Linked DNA regions of Homo sapiens. The protein of the gene in region 2 purifies or fractionates together with the protein of the main gene of each other region. This does not show direct contact. Each region holds a gene or a part of one and is shown on either strand. Other genes may lie near its edges.

Evidence for each region. Proteins that work in one complex are often made in the same cells at the same time.
Region 1: the proteins of SMC1A (region 2) and USP13 purify together in Homo sapiens (affinity purification with mass spectrometry; 5 studies listed by BioGRID and IntAct, with this or other methods). This does not show direct contact.
Region 3: the proteins of SMC1A (region 2) and PDS5A purify together in Homo sapiens (co-immunoprecipitation; 8 studies listed by BioGRID and IntAct, with this or other methods). This does not show direct contact.

What each region holds. Positions count from the first base shown.
Region 1 is NC_000003.12:179,740,026-179,747,048, reverse strand, and holds part of USP13 (ubiquitin carboxyl-terminal hydrolase 13), read right to left. Parts: intron 6,803-7,023; coding exon 6,677-6,802; intron 4,853-6,676; coding exon 4,699-4,852; intron 2,007-4,698; coding exon 1,832-2,006; intron 1-1,831. UniProt on the Homo sapiens protein: Deubiquitinase that mediates deubiquitination of target proteins such as BECN1, MITF, SKP2 and USP10 and is involved in various processes such as autophagy, endoplasmic reticulum-associated degradation (ERAD), cell cycle progression or DNA damage response.
Region 2 is NC_000023.11:53,405,655-53,412,677, forward strand, and holds part of SMC1A (structural maintenance of chromosomes protein 1A), read right to left. Parts: intron 6,600-7,023; coding exon 6,341-6,599; intron 6,248-6,340; coding exon 6,107-6,247; intron 3,850-6,106; coding exon 3,767-3,849; intron 3,616-3,766; coding exon 3,408-3,615; intron 303-3,407; coding exon 117-302; intron 112-116; exon of another isoform or gene 19-111; coding exon 1-18. UniProt on the Homo sapiens protein: Involved in chromosome cohesion during cell cycle and in DNA repair. Central component of cohesin complex. The cohesin complex is required for the cohesion of sister chromatids after DNA replication.
Region 3 is NC_000004.12:39,974,903-39,982,336, forward strand, and holds the start of PDS5A (sister chromatid cohesion protein PDS5 homolog A), read right to left. Parts: upstream 3,010-7,434; 5' UTR 2,555-3,009; intron 2,367-2,554; exon of another isoform or gene 2,346-2,366; intron 1,716-2,345; 5' UTR 1,676-1,715; coding exon 1,538-1,675; intron 1-1,537. UniProt on the Homo sapiens protein: Probable regulator of sister chromatid cohesion in mitosis which may stabilize cohesin complex association with chromatin. May couple sister chromatid cohesion during mitosis to DNA replication.

The sequences.
Region 1 (7,023 bases), on a different chromosome or scaffold from region 2:
GAACTACTATTAATCTCCCTTGGATAGGGAGCTTTTTAAAAATAATTTTAACAAATATGGCTTGTTTTTCCTTTTTGAAATAAATTGTTTTTGCTTTCCTGTTTTTAACATATGAACTCTACAATCTGAAACATAGCAGAAGCCTGAGGGAGGGGTTTCACAGAGAACAAATAATATAGGTTGAGGCCGGACATGGTGGTTCATGCCTGTAATCCCAGCACTTTGGGAGGCTGAGGAGGGCAGATCACCTGAGGTCAGGAGTTCCAGATCAGCCTGGCTAAATAGTGAAACCCTGTCTCCACTAAAAAAACAAAAATTGGCTGGGTGCGGTGGCTCATGCCTGTAATCCAGCACTTTGGGAGGCCAAGGAGGGAGGATCACCTGAGGTTGGGAGTTCGAGACCAGCCTGACCAACATGGAGAAACCCCATCTCTACTAAAAATACAAAACTAGCCGGGCATGGTGGCACAGGCCTGTAATCCCAGCTACTCGGGAAGCTGAGGCAGGAGAATCACTTGAACCTGGGAGGCGTAGGTTGTGGCAAGCAGAGATTGTGCCACTGCACTCCAGCCTGGGCAACAAAAGCAAAACTCCGTCTCAAAAAAAAACAAAAAAAAATATACAAAAATTAGCCGGGCTTGGTGGCATGTGCCTGCATTCCCAGCTACTCAGGAGGCTGAAACAGGAGAATTGCTTGAACTTGGGAGGCAGAGGTTGCAGTGAGCCAAGATCATGCCACTGCACTCCAGCCTGGGTGACAGAGCGAGACTCCCTCTAAAAAATATATATAATACTTATATATATTATATGTATATATATAAAATTTTATATATATACATTTTATATATAAAATTTTATATATATATATATAGGTTGAACTGCTATTGAGGCCATGGTAAAAACAGCCCACACCAGCCGTTCCATCCTTTAATCCCCTTTATGTTAGCCAAAATCTCAATCTTAGCCTCAAAGAAAAATGGCCAAAGAATATCTGAACGTAGCAAAACTCCTGGAGCCAAACTTTCAGACCTCCCTTTGTTTTATGCCACTGCAAGCACTCTTTTTCCAATTAAGTGCAGTGATATGAAGTGTGTTGGCAAGGACTCGACTGCATCAAATCAACTAGGGTGGCAGACGGAGAAAAAAAAACTTTTATGTGTCTGACAACCAGCCTCACAATGTGAAAACAAGACATCTGACTAAACCCTGAGCGGCTCGTTTCAACAATGCTCAGGAGACTTCCTGTCCACTTTGAGATGTCCTGAGACTCCTAGTCTCCAAGGAGAAACATAGCCAACCAAGTTCTAGACTAAGTCTTTAATTATGGAGTTAAAATATAGCACAATGGAGTTTAAATATGGAGGCCTGTCTTCAGCATTTTTGTAATTTCTTCATGAATAATGTCATTCTTGCCATTTGCGGGTAGGGGATTGTTTCTTGGCTGTATCCTCTTGGTAAGAGAGGGGCTGGGGGTGGGGTCAAGGTTGGGAGGAAGGGAAGGAGGAAGGAAGGAAGGAAGAAAGGAAGAAAGAAAGGAAGGAAGGAAGGAAGGAAGGCTCCTAATAGAGAATAAATCACAACCTTACATTTAAAAAAAGAAAAAAGAAAACCCCTCCTTAGCACGTAATATAAATCACAGGCCTGTTTTATTGGACAGGTCTCACACAAGTGAAGTTTGACGACAGTTAGGGTGTGTGAACCATAATCCCATCCATCACACATGAACAAACACACACAGACACAAATAACACCCACCCCCTTTCCCTTACCCCTGTCCCCACCCCTCAAGGCCCCTCCTCACCCCACTGCCACCACATATACACACACTTACTTCACACCCGCAGACTTTGCTTGTAGGGCACTGCTCCAGAAATCATCAACATTTTCTGGTTCAGAGAAGGCCTGAAGGCAGGCACTAAATGGTATCTTGGCACGTACCAACTCAGGAAGGGGTCTTCTGTTTGCTTCTGCTTCCCTTCTCGTTAGTTCATAAGCGATCAGTTCATCTGGGTGAAAGAGCAAATCAAAGACCTTGCAATCGCTCTTACCCTGTGGAAATGAAAAGCACCCTCTTTGGACAGTCTTCCCTGAAGGCTTCTGCGCTGGGCCAGAGTTGCTTATTTGTCGCCCTTTACAGAGCCAGATGCCCCTGCTGAAAGGCTGTTCTGGGGCTGTCTTTAGAGTTGCACCAACAGGTGGTATCAAGCCATTTACATCTTTTTGCATGCTCCCCTTTGCGACTGACAGGAGGGAAGTGTGAGCTTGGCCTGGCCTGGGTGGGTGAGAGGGCCAGACCATGTGTGTGATATAAATGCCCATGAACCTGGTTTGTCCAAAGGCCAATACTGGGATTATTCAAATGCCATCCTCCCAACACAAGGCCTTCGCATCAGAGTATTTCACAGCCAGAAAAGGTCCAAGGGCTCACGTCTTCCCAGTCCTTCACTGCCTTGCTGAAGAACTGAGGCCCAAAGTCAAAACCAGCCAATTATTGGCAAAGCTGGACTTAAAACTCTGATCAGCACTCCCTCCACAACCCAACAGATAAGGCCAGAAAGAGATGTTACATTGTGTAAGGGGATCAATTTTTGCCAATGATCACACACACATACACAAAAGTAACAAAAACATTCTTGTTAACTTTAAGCTGTTTTAAAATAAAATAACCAAAGGCAGAAAAAAACAAAACAAAACAAAAAAAAAAACAGAACCACCACTAAGCGCCTGGCAAGAGCCAGATCGAGTGTTACACATTTTCTGATTTGGTTCCACCAGCAACTATGATTAGAGGTCATGGGTCCCACATGGGTCCCTGTGAGGCCAAGGAGGAGGATAACTACAGGACTGCAGTTAGCCACCATCAAACAACCCATGACAGTAACCAACACTGCCGAGACAACTTCCTGTGGAGGTTACCCAACACCTCAGACATCAGGGCTACCAACCCAGAAGGCCTCTGTGCTATTCCTACTCAAATGATTAAATACTAAGGGAAAAAGAGGAACCTCCCAAGCACCAGCAGATCTGGTCCTGGAAACTAGCCTGTAGTCAAAATTTTATGTCAATTTGAATGGCCTTTCTGGTCATTTCTTTTGTATTACTCAAAAAAAAAAAAAAAAAAACTCCTTATTTATCAGTTTGTAGGTACACTTACGCACATATGTGTTTTCCTAAACACATCTTAGATGGTTTAAAATTCATTCCCCTGTCCCCAATCAGTTTATGATGTACTTATATCTAGGTTGCTAACATTAGGTGTTCCCAACAGTCAAATTCCAGAGACTAAATTATAAATCTCCTTTCTGAAAAAAAAAAGTAGTTATCACTAATAAATGATAAACAGAGTTAAAAAAAGATCATGGACATGAGCAGACACGTGAGTCAGTAACCCTGAGGCGGACAAGAGAAACCACTGCAGCCTAGTTCTAACAAGGAAACAAACAGCAGACTCCCATTCCCTTGTTTCTACACCAAAAGGATTTTGAAACTGATCAAAAACTGCATGAGCATATAGAAAATGAAAATCGTTTCATCTTAAATCATCATAATCATCACTTTCCAACTAACATCATAAACTGACCCACCACCCCCCACACACAAGAAAGAGCAAAAAGGGCCATCCAGGGAACCGCTGAATTTTTTTTTCTTTATTCTCAAAAAAAAAAACAAAAAACAAAAAAACTCCAGGATACATGTGTAGAACGTGCAGGTCTGTTACATAAGTATATGTGTGCCGTGGCGGTTTGCTGCACCTACTGACCTGTCCTCTAAGTTCTCTCCCCTTTCCCCCCACCCACCAACAGGCCTCAGTGTGTGATGTTCCCCTCCCTGTGTCCATATGTTCTCAATGTTCAACTCGCACTTATGAGTGAGAATATGCGGTGTTTGGTTTCTGTTCCTGTGTTAGTTTGCTGAGGATGAGGGCTTCCAGCTTCATCCATGTGCAAAGGACATGATCTCATTCCTTTTCATGGCTGCATAGTGGAATTGCTGAACTTTACAAAAATGACTAGTTCACAGGAGATGCACAATCCAGCAGCTATTTTGTCTTTTTTGCTTCTACGATGTTAATTCGAAGAAATGCCATTTGTCTATTCTGCCTAGGAAGAACCAGCTTAGACTGATGGAAGGAGAAGGCACCAAACATGAGTGCCACATCTCTGCCTCCTTCTCTCTTCCAAAGCCCAGAGACCCTTCTAATGGGCTTTGCTTCTACAAAGAACCCTGACACAATTTATCTCCCAGAAGAGGTGGCTCAAATACTCATGTGCCAAAGCTGGATTATTTCAAGAGACCTCTGCTCGAATGTCTAACTTTAAAAAATGCAGTCCTGATCATTTCCCTCAGACTTTATAGCACAACTTATAAATGACAGTGTTAAAGAATTTTCTACATACATCATTACCAATAATTTTCCCCAAAATTATGCTGACTCCATATTCAGTAGTTGGCCAAATTTATAGGCAGTGACGTAGGTTCCAACCATAACGCCTCCATAAAACCTGTGATGCATTTGATTCTTCTCAAAGGAAAAGTCACATGGGAACTAACAAAGAGATGAAAAGAGATGTGCAAAGCAGACATCACCTGGGCTGGGTCTACTCCTGACACACTTCAGTGACTAAACCATTCTCTCTGATTTGAGGGTTTTCCCATATGAAGACACACAGTACCAATTTCCCGCTTTGGAATTGTTACCCTTGTTGGTTGCCGCCTCCATGGCCACAGGTAACTGCATCAGGTAATCCACCCTCTCCGTGTAGCGGACTTTCCGGGTCTGACAGCACTGAATGCGTTCTTCCACCAAAAAACGAAAAACATCGCTTGGGTTTTCTGAGCCGATGCGGTTCCTCTGAAGGATGGATTGTATCAGGTTAGTAAATGTATGAATATTGAGCCACTAAGACTTAGTAGAAAATGAACTCTAAACCCGGTGTAAACACTTGGCTTTATTAAACATTTCCTCTGGCCATGCCCATTCACCAAAGCACTTTAATAGAAAAACACTGGAATTTATCTAAAGTCCAAAAATGGGGATTGGTAAAATAAAATATAGTTCATCATGGATTACTATTTCAATATTATTAAATTAAAAACCATGGGAGAGAAATTCATGGAATGAGAAGAAAGGAGGAGGAGAAGCCAATCAAAAGAGAAAGGGAAAAAAATAAAGGGCTGCCCTGGAAACATAAAAACATGTACAATATGATTATATAAATACACTCATGTAAATTAGGTACAAATAAAACAGAAATTATGCTCTGTTAACAGATGTGATGATGTGGCAAACATTTAAGTGAAAACACTGCTTACAGAAGAGCATGTAGAGAATTAACATAAGACCTGGAAAGTGATGGGAGGGGCAGATGCCAACCTGTGAACACTGGCTGTTGGCCGGGCACAGTGGCTCATGCCTGTAATCCCAGCACTTTGGGAGGCGGAGGCGGGTGGATCATCTGAGGTCAGGAGTTCGAGACCAGCCTGGCCAACATGGTGAAACCCCGTCTCTACTAAAAATACAAAAAAATTAGCCAGGCATGGTAGTGGGTGCCTATAATCCCAGCTACTCGGGAGGCTTTATTCTAAAAAAAAAAAGTTATCACTAATAAATGATAAACAGAGTTAGAAAAGATCATGGACCTGAGCAGACATGTGAATCAGTAACCCTGAGGCAGACAAGAGAAACCACTGCAGCCTAGTTCTAACAAGGAAACAAACAACAGAAGAATCACTTGAACCTGCAAGGCGGAGGTTGCAGTGGGCCAAGATCGTGCCACTGCACTCCAGCCTGGGCGACAAGAGCAAGACTCTGTCAAAAACAAACAAACAAAAACAAACAAACAAACAAACAAACAAAAAACACTGGCTGGCTGCAGGGCGTGGCATTAAGGGGGATTTTGATGTTCTCCTTTGTGTTTTCTATATTTTCCACAAAGAACACTGTTGTAACCAGGAAAAAAAAAAAAGGCTTTACTCAGGAATTCTCAGTGGCTTTCCAGCTCACACCTGTAATCCCAGCACTTTGGGAGGCCGAGGCGGGTGGATCACAAGGTCAGGAGTTCAAAACCAGCCTGACCAACATGGTGAAACCCCATCTCTACTAAAAATACAAAAATTAGCCGGGCGTGGTGGCAGGCTCCTATAATCCCAGCTACTCAGGAGGCTGAGGCAGTAGAATTGCTTGAACCCAGGAGGCAGAGGTTGCAGTGAGCCAAGATTGTGCCACTGCACTCTAGCCTGGGCAACAGAGCTAGACTCAGTCTCAAAAAAAAAAAAAAAGTTTTTAATGGCATTCGATTCTGATGTAAGCAGACTCATCATCTTTGAGCAGTGGCAGGAGGACACCAAATACCACGCAGGGCTCTTAAGGAACTTTGTCACAAAGACCAGAAAAAAATAAATTGTGAATGGAATAACTGGCAAGCACTCCTATAACACATACAGGTTAAAAGAAGCACAGAGATCCACAAGTGTCTGGAAACTGGAGTGTGAAGAGCAGTCACATCAAGTTGGCTGAGCAGAGAGTTTCCAGGGATCTGATTCTGAACCAGCTTTAACAGGAGAGATTGAAGAAAGAGAGTGGGGAGGCATTCTGATCAAGCCACAGCAGACTGCACTGAGTGGCTCGGCACCCTCTTACAACCCCGCTGAGCATCCGTGAAGACTGACTACTCACCTCTACTAGATTCACCAGGTGCAAGAAGAATTCCTGGGCATCTTGCTGCCTGTTAGAGGAGAATTCCGGGTGGCTCTTGCTTACAAAGGCCTTAAACATGCGCGGAGAGATCCCGTTCTGCTGTGGCTAATGTATAAAAATGAAATGGACTTATGATACTTTCATGCAAATTAACAGCCCTAAGCGGCAAGCAGAGCAGAACCCACCATAAACTCCACTTTCCAGATGAGAAAACTACAGCCCAAAGAAGGTAAATAATGATAGTGGCCAATACTCGCTGGGTGTTTACTATGTGCCAGGCCCTGCACTATGAACCTTATGAAGAACACAGGATGAGACTCTTCCTG
Region 2 (7,023 bases):
CTCATCTGTAGGCTTCACCTGTGGGGAGAAGCTCAGTCAGTGGCAGAACACAAACAGGGAGTACTAGAGGAGGGGCCCTTGAACACTGGCCTGACCCAATCCCCAACAAGCCTCACCTCCAGGTAGTCAAGAGGCAAGAAGGTCTCAGGCTCCCCACGCTGCTCCTTGATATACTGAATACAGTCCCGGCCTGTCTTCTCCGAGTCCACAATAATGGCATCCATGTTCTTGCCCAAAACCTTGGTTACAGCAATCTGATACTTCTTTTGTGTGGGCTGGCATAGGTCAATGAGGCGGCCGTACTGAGTAAAGTAGGAAGGGAAAACTGAAGTATGAAGCTTTTGGAAGCTGGCTCAGGAATCCTAATTCCCAGTATGGAAAGGGGGACAGACTAGAATCTATATCAGGAAGTGAATGCAACTGTATTGCCTAGTGGTTAAGATAACCCAATACCAAGCATGGTAGTGTGTGTTTGTAATCCTAGCTACTTGGGAGGTTGCAATGGGAGGACAGCTTAAGCCCAGGAGTTCAAGACCAGCCTGGGCAACATAATGAGACCCTGTCTCAAAACAAACAAAAAAGACAGCCCACTAGTTCTGTACCCATGCAACCCTACCCTATCTGAATGAGACTGTATGGACTGAGGAGGAGGCAATTGCAGACTAGCTTGCTGTGTGCACTCCAGATCAGCACAGTGGCCAATCCTAACGTCCCTTTGAAAGGTGGAAAAGTTTGGGTAAGAGAAGGGAGGTAAAGAAATGAATAAATGAGTTATGTAATGAGGGAAACTCAGTATTACATTAACACCTCAAAAGAGGTTCAGAGCAAGAGATGATATTGTCTCTTAGCACAATTATCCCAGATGCCTGAAAGTATGAAGCTATGTTTGCCGAGAACACTCCTGGTTTTGGAACCTAACAAGATTGAATAGAAGCCTGCAAACCTGAATGGCCTCACCCTAGGAGACATTTTTACATGACATGATCATGGACTAGACTAATTATTAATTAATGACTCAGTGGGATTCTAGTAATGTGCCAGTATCTTTCTACTCTTTTTTGGAGACGGAGTCTCACTCTGTTGCCCACGCTGAAGTGCAGTGGCGCAATCTTGGCTCACTGCAACCTCCACCTCCCAGGTTCAAGTGATTCTCCTGCCTTAGCCTCCCGAGTAGCTGGGATTACAGGTGCCCGCCACCATGCCCGGCTAATTTTTGTATTTTTAGTAGAGACGGGGTTTCACCATGTTGGCCAGGCTGATCTCAAACCCCTGACCTCCGATGATCTGCCCGCCTCGGCCTCCCAAAGTGCGAGGATTACAGGCGTGAGCTACCGCTCCCAGCATCTTTCTATTTATTACATGATTGTTCTGATGTAAGGGATCTGTGTTTGAAGATCAAAGTGGACTGTGGTTTTATGAAATATATATTTAGTCTTCTACCCGTGAGTTCCTGACACACAACTCCTAAAACCCTTAGAATCTCAGGAATGAGCAGTGTCTTTTGTATGTTAATGAGATGATTATGGCTGGAGGCCCATAGATAGCTTCTGGATAGGGGCTGGTTACCAGAAAGACCAAGGCAGGATTAGATTTGGGACTCTTAGCTCCACCCCTACAACCTTCAGGAGGGGAGAGGGGCTGAAGGTTGAACTGATCACCGATGGCTGATGATCTGATCAATCATGACTACATAATGAAGCCCCTGTGTGGGGGTACCTGGAGGGTGGCTTGCCCAGATTGGGCATGGAAGCTTCACATCTCTTCTCCCATACCTTGCCTTATGCATCCATCTGGCTGTTCTCTGTATCCTTTGTAATATCCTTCATAATAAATGGGTAAACATAAGTAAAACATTTTCCTGAGTTCTGTGAGCTGCACTAGTAAATTAATCGAACCCAGGGAGGGATTCTCGGGAACTGTAATTTATAGCAGGTCAGTCAGAACCACAAGTCACAACCTGAGACTTGCAATTGGCACCTGAAGTCTTGGACTGAGCCCCTAACCCACAGGATCTGATGCTATCTCCAGATAAATAGTGTCAGAGCTGAAGTGAATTATAGGTCACCCAGCTGGTGTCTGCTGGAGAATTGCTTGGTGTGTGAGGAAAAACCCCCACACTTCTGGTGTCAGAAGTGAAGTGTTGTGCTGGTTGTGAGAGTAGAAAAAACACTTTGGTTTTTTCCTATCTCACAGAAGAACACAGCCCCCATGCTATCAAGGAAAAGCCTATTCTGGTTCCCAAGCAATGACTTCAGGCAGTCGTGTCTGAATCCAGAATCATCTTTCTAAACCTCACATCTACCATTTTACAGACCACCACCACCCAGGCACTATGCCAAGTATCTTATATATATTATTTCAAATTCTCACAAGCACTTAGCAAAATAAATCTGGCTGGGCGTGGTGACTCACGCCTGTAACCCTACCACTTTGGGAGGCCGAGGCGGGCAGATCACTTGAGGTCAGGAGTTTAAAACCAGCCTGGCCAACATGGTGAAACCCCGTCTCTACTAAAAATACAAAAAAATTAGTTGGGCATGGCGGCGAGCACCTGTAATCTCAGCTACTTGGGAGGCTGAGGCAGGAGAATCACTTGAGCCTAGGAGGCAGAGATTGCAGTGAGCCGAGGTTGTGCCACTGCACTCCAGCCTGGGCGACAGAGCGAGACTCCATCTCAAAATCAATCAATCAATCAATCAATCTCTTCTACCAGTTCCCTTCCTGCAGCCTCCAAAACCAAGCCTGGTTCCCTAAGAACTATCAGATTAAGGGGGCAGGGACTGACTCTAACCATACTTATCTCCCCAGCAGTGTCTAGAGAAGTGATAGGGAAATATTAGTGGAACCAAACTAAGTTGAACCCAGGTATGGGATAATATTCAGGGAACCTGGGAACTCAGGATTTGGTGAAAGAGGCCAAAAGATCAAGAGATCTGATAAAGCTCAGGGTGTCCCTAAAAGCTACTGGACCAGTTAATACATGCCAAGGGAGCCCCTTTATAAGACTGCACAGAGCTACTTCCTGGGAGAGTAATTCCAGCCCCATGGCCCCACCTGCTTCCAAAATCTTTCCTGGTTTTCCAATTCCCCTCCCAGAGGCATAGACATAGCAAGACAAAACCTTCAGAAAGACGCAATTGGTATGATGAAAAGAACATGATTGCCTAGTATGACAGGTTGAAAAATAAAAAAAAAAAAAAAAAAAAAAGAACATGAGCTCAGGAGAACAAGTTGGGTTTGAACTGCAGTTCTTCCTCTTAGAAGCGGTGCTTTTTTAAACCTCTCCGAGCCTCATTTCCCCCAACAATAAAAATGGGATTGGCAACCCTGTCCTTACAGGGCTGCTGGGAAAATCGTGTGACAGTGAGTGTAAGTGCTCAGGAAATGAGTTCCCTCTCTGCTCTTACCACAGAGCCAGGGTAAAGGCGCTTGATGCTTTCCATTATCTCTGCCTTTCGCTGCTGGCGGCTGCTCTCCTGGCGGTCGATGCGGGCATCCCCTAGCTGCTCCATCACCTGGTTCAGCTCCTTATTGATTTCATCAATACGCCGCTTGGCCATCTCCACCTCCTCTGTCAGCTCCCCCTCTAGCTTCTTCTGCTCTTCTAGGGACTGCCTACAAAGTGAGGGCACACAGGAGTTACTCCTGCTGGTGAGAAAATACTCCTGGCTCAGAGAGCTCTGGGGGTCCTGCATGAAGAGGGGCATGTAGGTAGGGTCACAAGAACAGGCCTGGAAGTAAGGGGGACAGATGCAGAGCTACATACTTGCTAGTGGTGATGTATTCCTCCAGTTTCTCAATCCGCTTCTGATTCTCTTCAATTTCCCGCAGCTTTTGCTTGATCTTGGCCTGGGAAACAAACATTCCATCATCAGGGGCTGCACGAGTTTACGCCAAGACCATGGGGGCTCTAGATCACACCCTTTATGTGCCCACTCATCCAAGAGCCGAACAGTCCAGGACAATCTGTCACTAATATAGGAGGCCTACTAAAAAGCAGACATAGATGGTGTTCGGTTTGATCTACTAACTAATGATGGGGGCCTCCCAGAGCTCCAGAACCTCTCATAGGTGTTCTACCCAGCCAAGGCATCTTCTTCACCAACCATGGAGGCTCAAATCAAGATAAAGCTTCACAGGCCTTTCTGTACCTGTTTCCTCATCTGCAAAATGTGGGTAATCTCCACTGCATAGAATACACATTAAGTGCTTAATATAGGGTTGTTATTAATATTAATGACTATCACATTATTTTTAAAAAATTTTTATTATTTTTTAAAATTTGAGACAGGGTCTCACTGTGTTGCTCAGGCTGATCTCAAACTCCTGGCCTCAAGTGATCCACCACGCCTGGCCAACATTCTTTTAAATATTTAAAAGTGCTTAGCAGAATGCCTGAACACTGTACACTCCTGGGACACTATGACAACTTTCTATCATTGCTGTTATTACAATATTGATATCAGGGAGGCAGTAAGTAAAGTATATTTGGTAAGAGTGTGGGCTTTAGAGCTACAATGCCCAGGGTCTGGTTCTGATACTTAATAGTTATGTGAGTGGCCGGGCACGGTGGCTCGCGCCTGTAATCCCAACACTTTGGGAGGCCAAGGCAGGCTGATCGCAGAGGCAGGCAGGAGTTTAAGACCAGCCTGGGCAACAAGCAGAAACCCTGACTCTATAAAAATTAAAAAATTAGGAGGCCGAGGCGGGCGGATCACTTGAGTTCGGAAGTTCAAGACCAGCCTGGTCAACATGGTGAAATCCCATCTCTACTAAAACTACAAAAAATTTAGCCAGGTGTGGTGGCACCCACCTGTCATCCCACCTACACGGGTGGCTGAGACACAAGAATCACTGGAACCGGGCTGGGTGCGTTGGCTCACACCTGTAATCCCAGCACTTTAGGAGGCCAAGGCGGGTGGATCACCTGAGGTCAGGAGTTCGAGACCAGCCTGACCAACAAGGTGAAACCCCGTCTCCACTAAAAATACAAAAATTAGCCGGGAATGGTGGCTGGTGCCTGTAATCTCAGCTACTTGGGGAGGCTGAGGCAGGAGAATTGCTTGAACTTGGGAGACAGAGGTTGTAGTGAGCCGAGATGGCACCATTGCACTCCAGCCTGGGCAACAAGAGAGAAACTGCGTCTCAAAAAACAATAAAAATAAAAATAAAAAAATAAAAAGAATCACTTGAACCCGACAGGCAGAGGTTGCAGTGAGCTGAGATCATGCCACTGCACTCCAGCCTGGGCAACAGAGTGAGGCTTTGTCTCAAAAAAAAAAAAAAAAAAAGTAGCCAGGCATGGTGGCAAGCACAAGTAATGCTGGATACTCAGGAGGCTCTGGTTGGAAGATTGCTTAAGCCTGGGAAGTCGAAGCTGCAGTGAGCCATGGTCGCACCACTGCACCTCAGCCTGCATGACAGAGAAAGACTCTGTCTCAAAAATAACAATAATCTTGTGACCTTAGGCAAATTACTCTGTGTTGTAATTTCCTCATTCATAAAATAGGGTAATAGTAGCCATTCCATAAAGATAATAATAAATGAAGAATTAAATGAGTGGATACATGTAAAGAACATTGCCTATCATACAGTAAGTGCTCAACAGATGTGAGCTACTGTCATTATCATTGTCATTATCATTAAGATTATCATGGCCAGGCGCAGTGGCTCAAGCCTGTAATCCCAGCACTTTGGGAGGCCGAAGTGGGTGGATCACAAGGTCAGGAGCTCGAGACCAGCCTGGCCAACGTAGTGAAACCCTGTCTCTACTAAAAATACAAAAATTAGTTGGACATGGTGGCGCACGCCTGTAGTCCCAGCTACTCAGGAGGCTGAGGCAGGAGAATTGCTTGAACCCGGGAGGCAAAGGTTGTGGTGAGCTGAGATCACATCACTGCACTCCAGCCTGGGCAAGAGCGAAACTCTGTCTCAAAAAAACAAAAAAACAAAAAAAAAGACTATCATTACAGGTTGGGTAACTCTAATCCAAAATGCTTAGGACCGGAAACGTTTCAGATTTTGGATTATTTTGGATTTGGGATGCTCAACCTATATATATCCTTTTCTGTGGACCATCATCCCTAATCTTATAACTATAGCCCACCTCTGTCTCTACTTTCTTCCGTTCTTCCAGATCCAGACGGTCCTGGTCAGCTTTCTGGTCTCGATTGAATTTCTCCAGCTCCTGGGCCAGGGTAGCTGCTCTCTTGCTGGCTTCTTCTTTCAACCGGTGGTATTTCTTCACCTGTGTTAGGGACAGGGAAGGAGAACAGGGATGACCAAGTCAGCAGATGTCAGCCCAGGGATCTCCTCCCTGCCAACCCCTTCCAGAGCTTACCTGATTCTCCTCCAACGTCAAATCTCTGCCCTGACTCTGACTCTCTTCTTCCATCCGTTCTTCAAACTCCTGCCGAGCCTTCTCCACTGACAGCATCTCCTTCTCCAGCTCATCCATGTCACCTTTACGCTTCTTGTAGTGCTTCTGAGCATTCTGCAGAGACTTCTTGGCTGCTTCCAGCTTCTTGATTTTGTGGGAGGTGTTCTCCTTGGCTTTGATGTACTGAGGCCGCTTCTGGTTCAATTCTGAGTCCTTCTCCCTTTTGCCAGAGGGGTGGGGGAAACCAGTGAGAACTATGGAAGAAGGGAGGGTTCCCAGGCTTTTCACCCAAAGGAGAGCTTGAGCCCCTGAGCCAACCTCAGGGAATTACTTAAAAGAACATGGGCGTAATGCCCCACAGATCCTGAAAAAAAGGGGCAGTCTGACTACTCCCTGAAAGGTATGACTTCAGCCTGGCATTCCAGCCACTCCATAAGGCAAAGCTACCAACTCTGCCTCAACCCTGGCCAGGAAGCTCATTAACAACTCCCAAGAACATCCTGTATTTACTTAGTTGGCCCCTCAAATTCCTATCCTTTAAACTTCTAGCTTCAGTTTCCTCTTCTAGGAAGGCCTTCTCAGCCACTCCATTGGCTCGGCCTCACATTGGTTCCTCTTTCTTGGCAAGGCCACCACCCCTTTTG
Region 3 (7,434 bases), on a different chromosome or scaffold from region 2:
GAGATCGAGACCAAAGTGACCAACATAGTGAAATCCCATCTCTACTAAAAATACAAAAATTAGCTGGGCGTGGTGGCAGGCACCTGTAATCCCAGCTACTAGAGAGGCTGAGGCAGAATTGCTTGAACCCGGGAGGTGGAGGTTGCAGTGGGCCGAGACGCGCCACTGCACTCCAGCCTAGGTGACAGAGCAAGACTCCGTCTCAAAAAAAAAAAAAAAAAAAAAATTTAGCCGGGTGTGGTGGCACACGCTGGTAGTCCCAGCTACTTGGGAGGCTGAGGCAGAATAGCTTGAACCTGGGAAGTGGAGGTTGCAGTGAGCTGAGATCCCGCCGCCGCACACAGATTTGTTTTAATGAAAGGAACTGTTGTCTTATTCCTTCCAAAAAGGCAACAAATTGCAGAACCAAATTAAGAGTCTGAAAACTAAACCACAGGAATATTTTAAATACTGTACTCATTAAAATGCAACATTAGGTACATTTACTGGGCTCCAAGAGCAAGAGGCCAAGCTCATTCCCTAAAATACATTTGGCCAAGTGGCCCAAGGTGGAAACATTGTCAACAATGTTGCTTCCCTCACCTCCCACCAATTCTGATTGATTCTAACTCTGAAAAGTTGTTAAATCATTTCCTAGTCACTATTACCAATGCCATAGCCCTACCTGAAGATTTCAACGTCTTTCACCTAGACTACTGTTTACAGTTTCCTAGCCGGACTCACTGCCTCTGGTCTTCCCCTACTCCAATCTAGCACCAATTGTGACAACCAAAATGTCTCCAGCATTGCCAAACATCTCCTGGAGGTCAAAGTTGCCCTGACTCAGAACCACTGCTTCAAGCTGTTCCTACAAGAAGAATATTACTTATTTGTTAAGATTCTGGCCACAATCTATGTCAGTGGAACAGAAACCAAAAAAACTAACAAACATGAGGTTGAAATTTAAAACCTTAACCTTAGGACTGCCATGCTTAAACAAAATTAGCTGACACCTCATAAAAAGGGCCATAATACTCTTAAACTCCTTTGAACGTATAGACTTAAATCATCTTACTTTAAGCCTGAATTATGAAAAGTCTGTACCTTCTGTCAAAGTTTAACCACCATATATACATATTTAAGCTTCTGGATATAGAAAATTATGCAAATTTTTAAAAAGGACTTTGCGCTTTAATCAATCCCCTTCAGAAGCTGAAAATAGTAAACTTCTTAGGCAAATTACTGCCTACACCTAAGTTTGCAAGCCACTCTGAACAGTATTCTCATTAAATACCTCCAGAAAAAACTCTAAAAACACAAATTCTTATGCTTGAAAACCAGTAAGTTTTTGAAAAATCACACTCCTTTTAAATTTCCCACAATGGTTATATCCCTACAAAACTCACTCAAAGATGTTATCTGAGATACAACAGTACCTTTCAGAGGGGGTAAGAGATCTAAAAAACTTGGAACTTTAAAGGCCAGACTGAGCAGGGTAGCAGTATCACAGGAGAAAGCGCCTTCTACCAAAGACATCAAAATCCGTCCAGACACTTACCTTCAGGCGTTTGATCATCTCGTCCGTGGTGATCTTGTCGGTGATCTCTTTTACCCCCGGAGGGTAAGCGATCTTCCCGTCGGCACTCACGACGCCACAGAGGGCAGTGGCAGGCTTGGGCTGCGCGGTGAAGTCCATCCTGGGGGACAACTTTTGGTTCACAGTCCTCTACCGGCCTCTATCGGTCAGAAAACCAAAGTTCAGCGGGAAAGGGGCGACTTTGTAACCTCTTTTTTCATTTCAAATCTCTCTAATCTGGAAAAGGCCCTGTCTCCCCAGAGGCCGGGGACCCGGCAGCGGCCTCGCCACCCGCTCTTTCCCAGGGATCGAACCCCGCCGGCCCCGCCAACCCGGCCCTGCCAGCCCCAGGCTCACGGGGCTCCTCCGCACCAGCCGCCGTGGCCGCCGAACAGCGCCAGGAGTTTCCCATTCCGCCTTTCACAATGAAATCCACCCCCGAGCACCAGGGTCCGAAGTTTGGCGGCCCCGGGAGGCCGGCAAGGACCCCAAGGCCCCCGCTCGGCGGTGGGGAAGCACCCAGTCCCGCCCGGCCAGTCCCCTCCGGGAAACCAGACCCGAGGCCTATAGGGCTCGGCTTAGGCCGCAAAACTAGGGACCCAGCGGACCCACGCGCAGCGGCGGCTGCCGGGAACAAAACGCCCTTGCCCAGCCGAGCCTCGGACCCGGGGTAGTCCCCGCCGCGCTGCCACCCCTCCCCTGTTCCGCTCCCTCACCCCCGCGGGAGGGGAAAACAAGCCGCCCTCCACCCTCAGCCCCACGCCAGGAAGCGGCTGACGCGCCTCCGCACTTCACATTTTGTTCCTTCAACTTCGGCTGAGGGACCCCAGCTGCTTCTCTGGCCCCCGGCCGCTTGGCGCCTCCGGCACCGCCGAGGCCTTCCCGGCACCCTCGGGCGGCCCCACCGGGCCTCGGACCCGCGGCCCCCCCCTCCAGTCTCCCCTTCCGTCCCCTCCCTCCAGCAGCCTAGGGCGGGAGCCGAGCCGCCGCCGCCTTTACCTCCTCCTCATGCGGGCGGAAGGTGCATCGAGCGCCCGGGCCTCTGTCAGGTGGTTGCGCCGCCGCCCCTAGTCGGGCTGCACACAAAGCGGCTCCGCGGGTCCCGCCGCCGCCGCCGCCGCCGCCCGCCCGCCCGGGAGCGGCGCTGGGGCTGGCGGTGCCGAGGAGGAGCAGCCGCCGCGGGGGGAGACGCGGGGCGAGTGAGCGCTGGGCGGGGAGACAGTGCCGCTCTCCGTCTGGCCGAGGAAGAGCAGCCTCGAAGGCTCCTCCGGGAGTGTGTGCGCTTGTGTCCGTCCGGGACCCCCGCGGCCCGCCCGCACGCACCTCGCGCCGGCCCGGACCGCCGACTCGGACCCGGACGCCCCTCGCAGAGGCGCGCGCCCGGCCGTCCGTGCCCCGGGAGCCGGGGCCTCGCGCACACACCGGCCGGTCACGCGAGCGGCGCGAGAGCACGCGAGAGCAGCGCGCGCTCCTCGCTCCCTCCCCTTCCTCCGCCGGCCGTGCATCCGCCTCCCTCGGGCCCGAGGCGGCCGCGCGCAGGGCGGACAGCGCCGCCACCCGGTTGGCGCCAATACCTGCCGCGCGGGGCGCCTCCCGGAGGACCCGACCGGAGAGGGCGAGAGGAGGAGGAGCCCGGGTGGCGGGAAGCGAGCCCAGGTTCCCGCGGCCTTGCGAGGGCACGCAGGGCAAACAGTGCTTTATCTTTCGCAGCGGCGATGAGCTGGTGACTTTTGGGGGTCATCCTGAGGGACATAGACGAAACTGGTTGGGAGGTAGTTAATTGCTCGGTGAAAATGAACTGATTTCCTCCTCAGGGAGAGATCTGCAAAGTCAAGGAAAGTTGTGCAATGGGGCGCAGCGTGAGCGGCTCACTCTCGGGTCTTCTGACAGCCACCCGAGTTGCCCACCCTCCTTAGATTTCTGAAGTTAATATTTTGAAAGCTGCAAAACATGAAAATAGCATTGGGTCGAGTCGTTCTCAAGGTATGGTCTTTGGGCCACCAGGCCTCACAATCACTTTGGGTACTGGCTGAAAACGTAGGTTTCCAACTCCAAAGATTAAAAAACATAAAAATATATGTTTTTTTAACGTAAAAATATATATGAACATAAAACATATAAAAATATAACATATAAAATAAAACACTAAAAAATATAAAAATATACATAAACATAAAAATCTCTGAGAGTGGAACCCAGAAATAAGCATTTATTAATTGGGTGGGTGATTCTTGTAAATAAGGAAGAGCTCATTTTTTAAAAATGTTTTAAACCTACCAAGCATTAACGTTTTCTGTCATCCAAAGGAAAACCACTATCAGGTAAAAACAGTGCACGCAGCAGTGTTTGAGCAATTTAATGTATGTAATTGAAACAAATTAACGCAAGAACATACACTTACCTATTTAAAAAAAATCAAGAGCATACACAAAATTTCCGAAGAGAAAGTTGAAAAAAGGATACGATAATATGAAATCACATTCAGCTCTTGAAACTGACCACTACCATAGTTTAAAATGATATTCGATTGTTTATTCAAATTATTCTTGATGGGTACCCATTGGTCTATTTTTTTCCCACATCCTTTAACGTCAACTTAAAAATAGTAAAGGTACTGCATTTCAGCTCACTGACTTGTTTTTGACGTATTACACAAGAGCAGTCATTGCGAATCTGACACTCCACAGTTGCTGATTTGCTAGAACTCTGCCCAAAAGTCAATGCTTTGTTCTTGGGCATTTACAGTACCAGGCAGAATCCATTTAAAAGTGTCCTCATCCAAACTATTAAGTGGACCAAAAGCTGCTCTCTTTTTAGGCTCTCCCTGTCACTTTTGATATTTATTTTTTTCTTTTGAGACGGAATCTTACTCTGTCACCCAGGCTGGAGTGCAGTGGCGTGATATCGGCTCACTGCAAGCTCTGCCTCCCGGGTTCACGCCATTCTCCTGCCTCAGTCTTCCGAGTAGCTGGGACTACAGGCGCCCGCCACCACGCCCGGCTAATTTTTTTTTTTTGTATTTTTAGTAGAGACGGGGTTTCACCATGTTAGCCAGGATGGTCTCGATCTCCTGAGCTAGTGATCCGCCCGCCTCGGCCTCCCAGAGTGCTGGGATTACAGGCATGAGCCACCGCGCCCGGCCAAATTTGATATTTCTTTGTGTGTTACATTTAATTAAACAACAATGATTTTATCTTTCATCCTCCTCAGTAGCTTGCCCATTATTAAATGGAGTTTTGTATATGTACATATATTTTATTTTATTTATTTTTTATATTATTTTATTATTTTTTGAGATGAAGTCTCACTTTGTCGCCCAGACTGCAGTGCAGTGGCATGATCTCGGCTCACTACAGCATCCGCCTCCCAGGTTCAAGCGACTTTTGTGCCTCAGGCCCCCAAGTAGTTGGGACTACAGGTGTGTGCCACCATACCGGGCTAATTTTTTTTTGAGACAGAGTCTCCCTCTGTCGCCCAGGCTGGAGTGTGGTGGTGTGATCTTGGCTCACTACAACCTCTGACTTCTGGGTTCAAGCAATTCTCCTGCCTCACCCTCCCAAGTAGCTGGGATTACAGGCGCCCGCCACTATGCCCGGCTAATTTTTGTTATTTTTAGTAGAGACAGGGTTTCACCATGTTGGTCAGGCTGGTCTCAAACTCCTGACCTCAGGTAATCTGCCCGCCTCACCCTCCCAAAGTGCTGGGATTACAGGCTTGAGCCACCGTGCCTGGCCTTACTGGTTGATTTCTTTTTTTTTTTTTTTAACATGGAGTCTCACTCTATCACCAGGCTTGAGTGCAGTGGTGCGATCTCGGTTCACTTCACCTCTGCCTCCCAGGTTCAAGCGATTCATCTGCCTCAGTCTCCCAAGTAGCTGGGACTACAGGCGTACACCACCACGCCCAGCTTATTTTTATATTTTTAGTAGAGATGGAGTTTCACCATATTGGCCAGGCTGATCTCGAATTCCTGACCTCGTGATTTGCCCGCCTCGGCCTCCCAAAGTGCTGGGATTACAGGTGTGAGCCCCTGCGCCTGGCCTATTTTATTTTTTCGAGACGAAGTCTTGCTCTGTTGCCCAGGCTGGAGTGCAGTGGTACAATCTGGGCGCACTGCAACCTACGCCTCCTGGGTTCAAGCAGATCTCCTGCGTCAGCCTCCCAAGATCTGGGACTACAGGCATGCGCCACCACGCCTGGCTAATTTTTGTACTTTTAGTAGAGACAGGGTTTTACCATGTTGGCCAGCCTGGTCTCGAACTCTTGACCTTAGGTGATCCACCCACCTTGGGCTCCCAAAGTGCTGGAATTACAGGCATGAGCCACTGCACCCAACCTCCACCAAGCTTTTCTTCCCCGCTCAGTGCCCAAAACAATGCCTTATATTATAGGCCTCTTTAAATAATTGTTTCACAAATGAAGGCCTGCCCTCCTGGTGGACCTTAATTTGTTTGGGGAGAAATAGACCAAAATAACAATAATACATGTATATGAAAATAAAGTAGGGAAGAGTTGGGCACGGTGGCTCGCACCTGTAATCCCAGCACTTTGGGAGGGGGAGGCAGGCAGACTATTTGAGGTCACGAGTTTCAGACCAGCCTGGCCAGCATGGTGAAACCCCATCTCTATTAAAAAGACAAAAAATTAGACTCAGTGGCTCAGGCACGGTGGCTCAGGACTGTAATCCCAGCACTTTGGGAAGCCGAGGTGGGTGGATCACCTGAGGTCAGGAGTTCCAGACCAGCCTGACCAACATGGTGAAACCCTGTCTCCACTAAAAATACAAAAATTAGGCAGGCGCACTGGCACATGTCTGTAATCCCAGCTACTAAGAAGGCTGAGGCAGGAGAATCGTTTGAACCGGGGAGATGGAGGTTGCAGCGAGCTGAGAAAGCACCACTGCACTCCAGCCTGGGCGACAGAGTGAGACTCCCTGGAGTGAGAGAGAGTACAGATCACATGTAGCCTTTTAGACCTCTGGTAAGACTGTGGCTATCCTCTGATTGAGGTGGGGAACTAATGGACTGTTTTAAGCAAAGAGGTGATATGATGTATGTCCTGAGTTAGGCAATGTTGGTCAAACCACTTAATTCTTCTGTGCCTCATTTTCTTCATCTGTAAAACAAGGATAATGATAGTATCTTCCTCACATGATCATTATGAGGAATACATAACTTAATTTTTTTTTCTGTCGCCCAGGCTGGAGTGCAGTGTTGCAGTCTCGGCTCACTGCAACCTCTGCCTCCCAGGTTCAAGTGATTCTCTTGCCTCAGCTTCCCTAGTAGCTGTGATTACAGGCACGCACCACCATGCCCAGCAATTTTTTGTATTTTTAGTGTGATGGGATTTCACCATGTTGGCCAGGCTGCTCTTGAACTCCCGACCTCAGGTGATCCGCCCGCCTTGGCCTCCCAAAGTGCTAAGATTACAGGTGTGAGCCCCTGCGCCTGGCCATAAGTTAATATTTGTAAAATGCCTAGAATAGTAACTCGCATATACTAAGCTCTACATAATTTTTTTTAATAAAATAAAATAAAAAAATCAAAGAGTTTTATGTGGTTAATAATTGCACAAAGGGGTGGCTTTGTGAGTCTTTATTCTACCTCCCACATAATTTCAATCAGTGTCCCCCTCACACATACATTCAGTTATATAATCTATGTACAAAATTGCGTCCAATGCAATTTGAGGACAAACCCCTAACCCCCAATTTCACTACAGCTCCTTCTATATACAAATTCTAGAGCTCCTGACCAACATGGCAAAACCTCATCTCTACTAATATATATATATATATTTGCATATATATATATATGCAAAAATTAGCCTGGTGGGGTGGCGCACACCTGTAGTCCTAGCTACTTGGGAGGCTGAGGCAT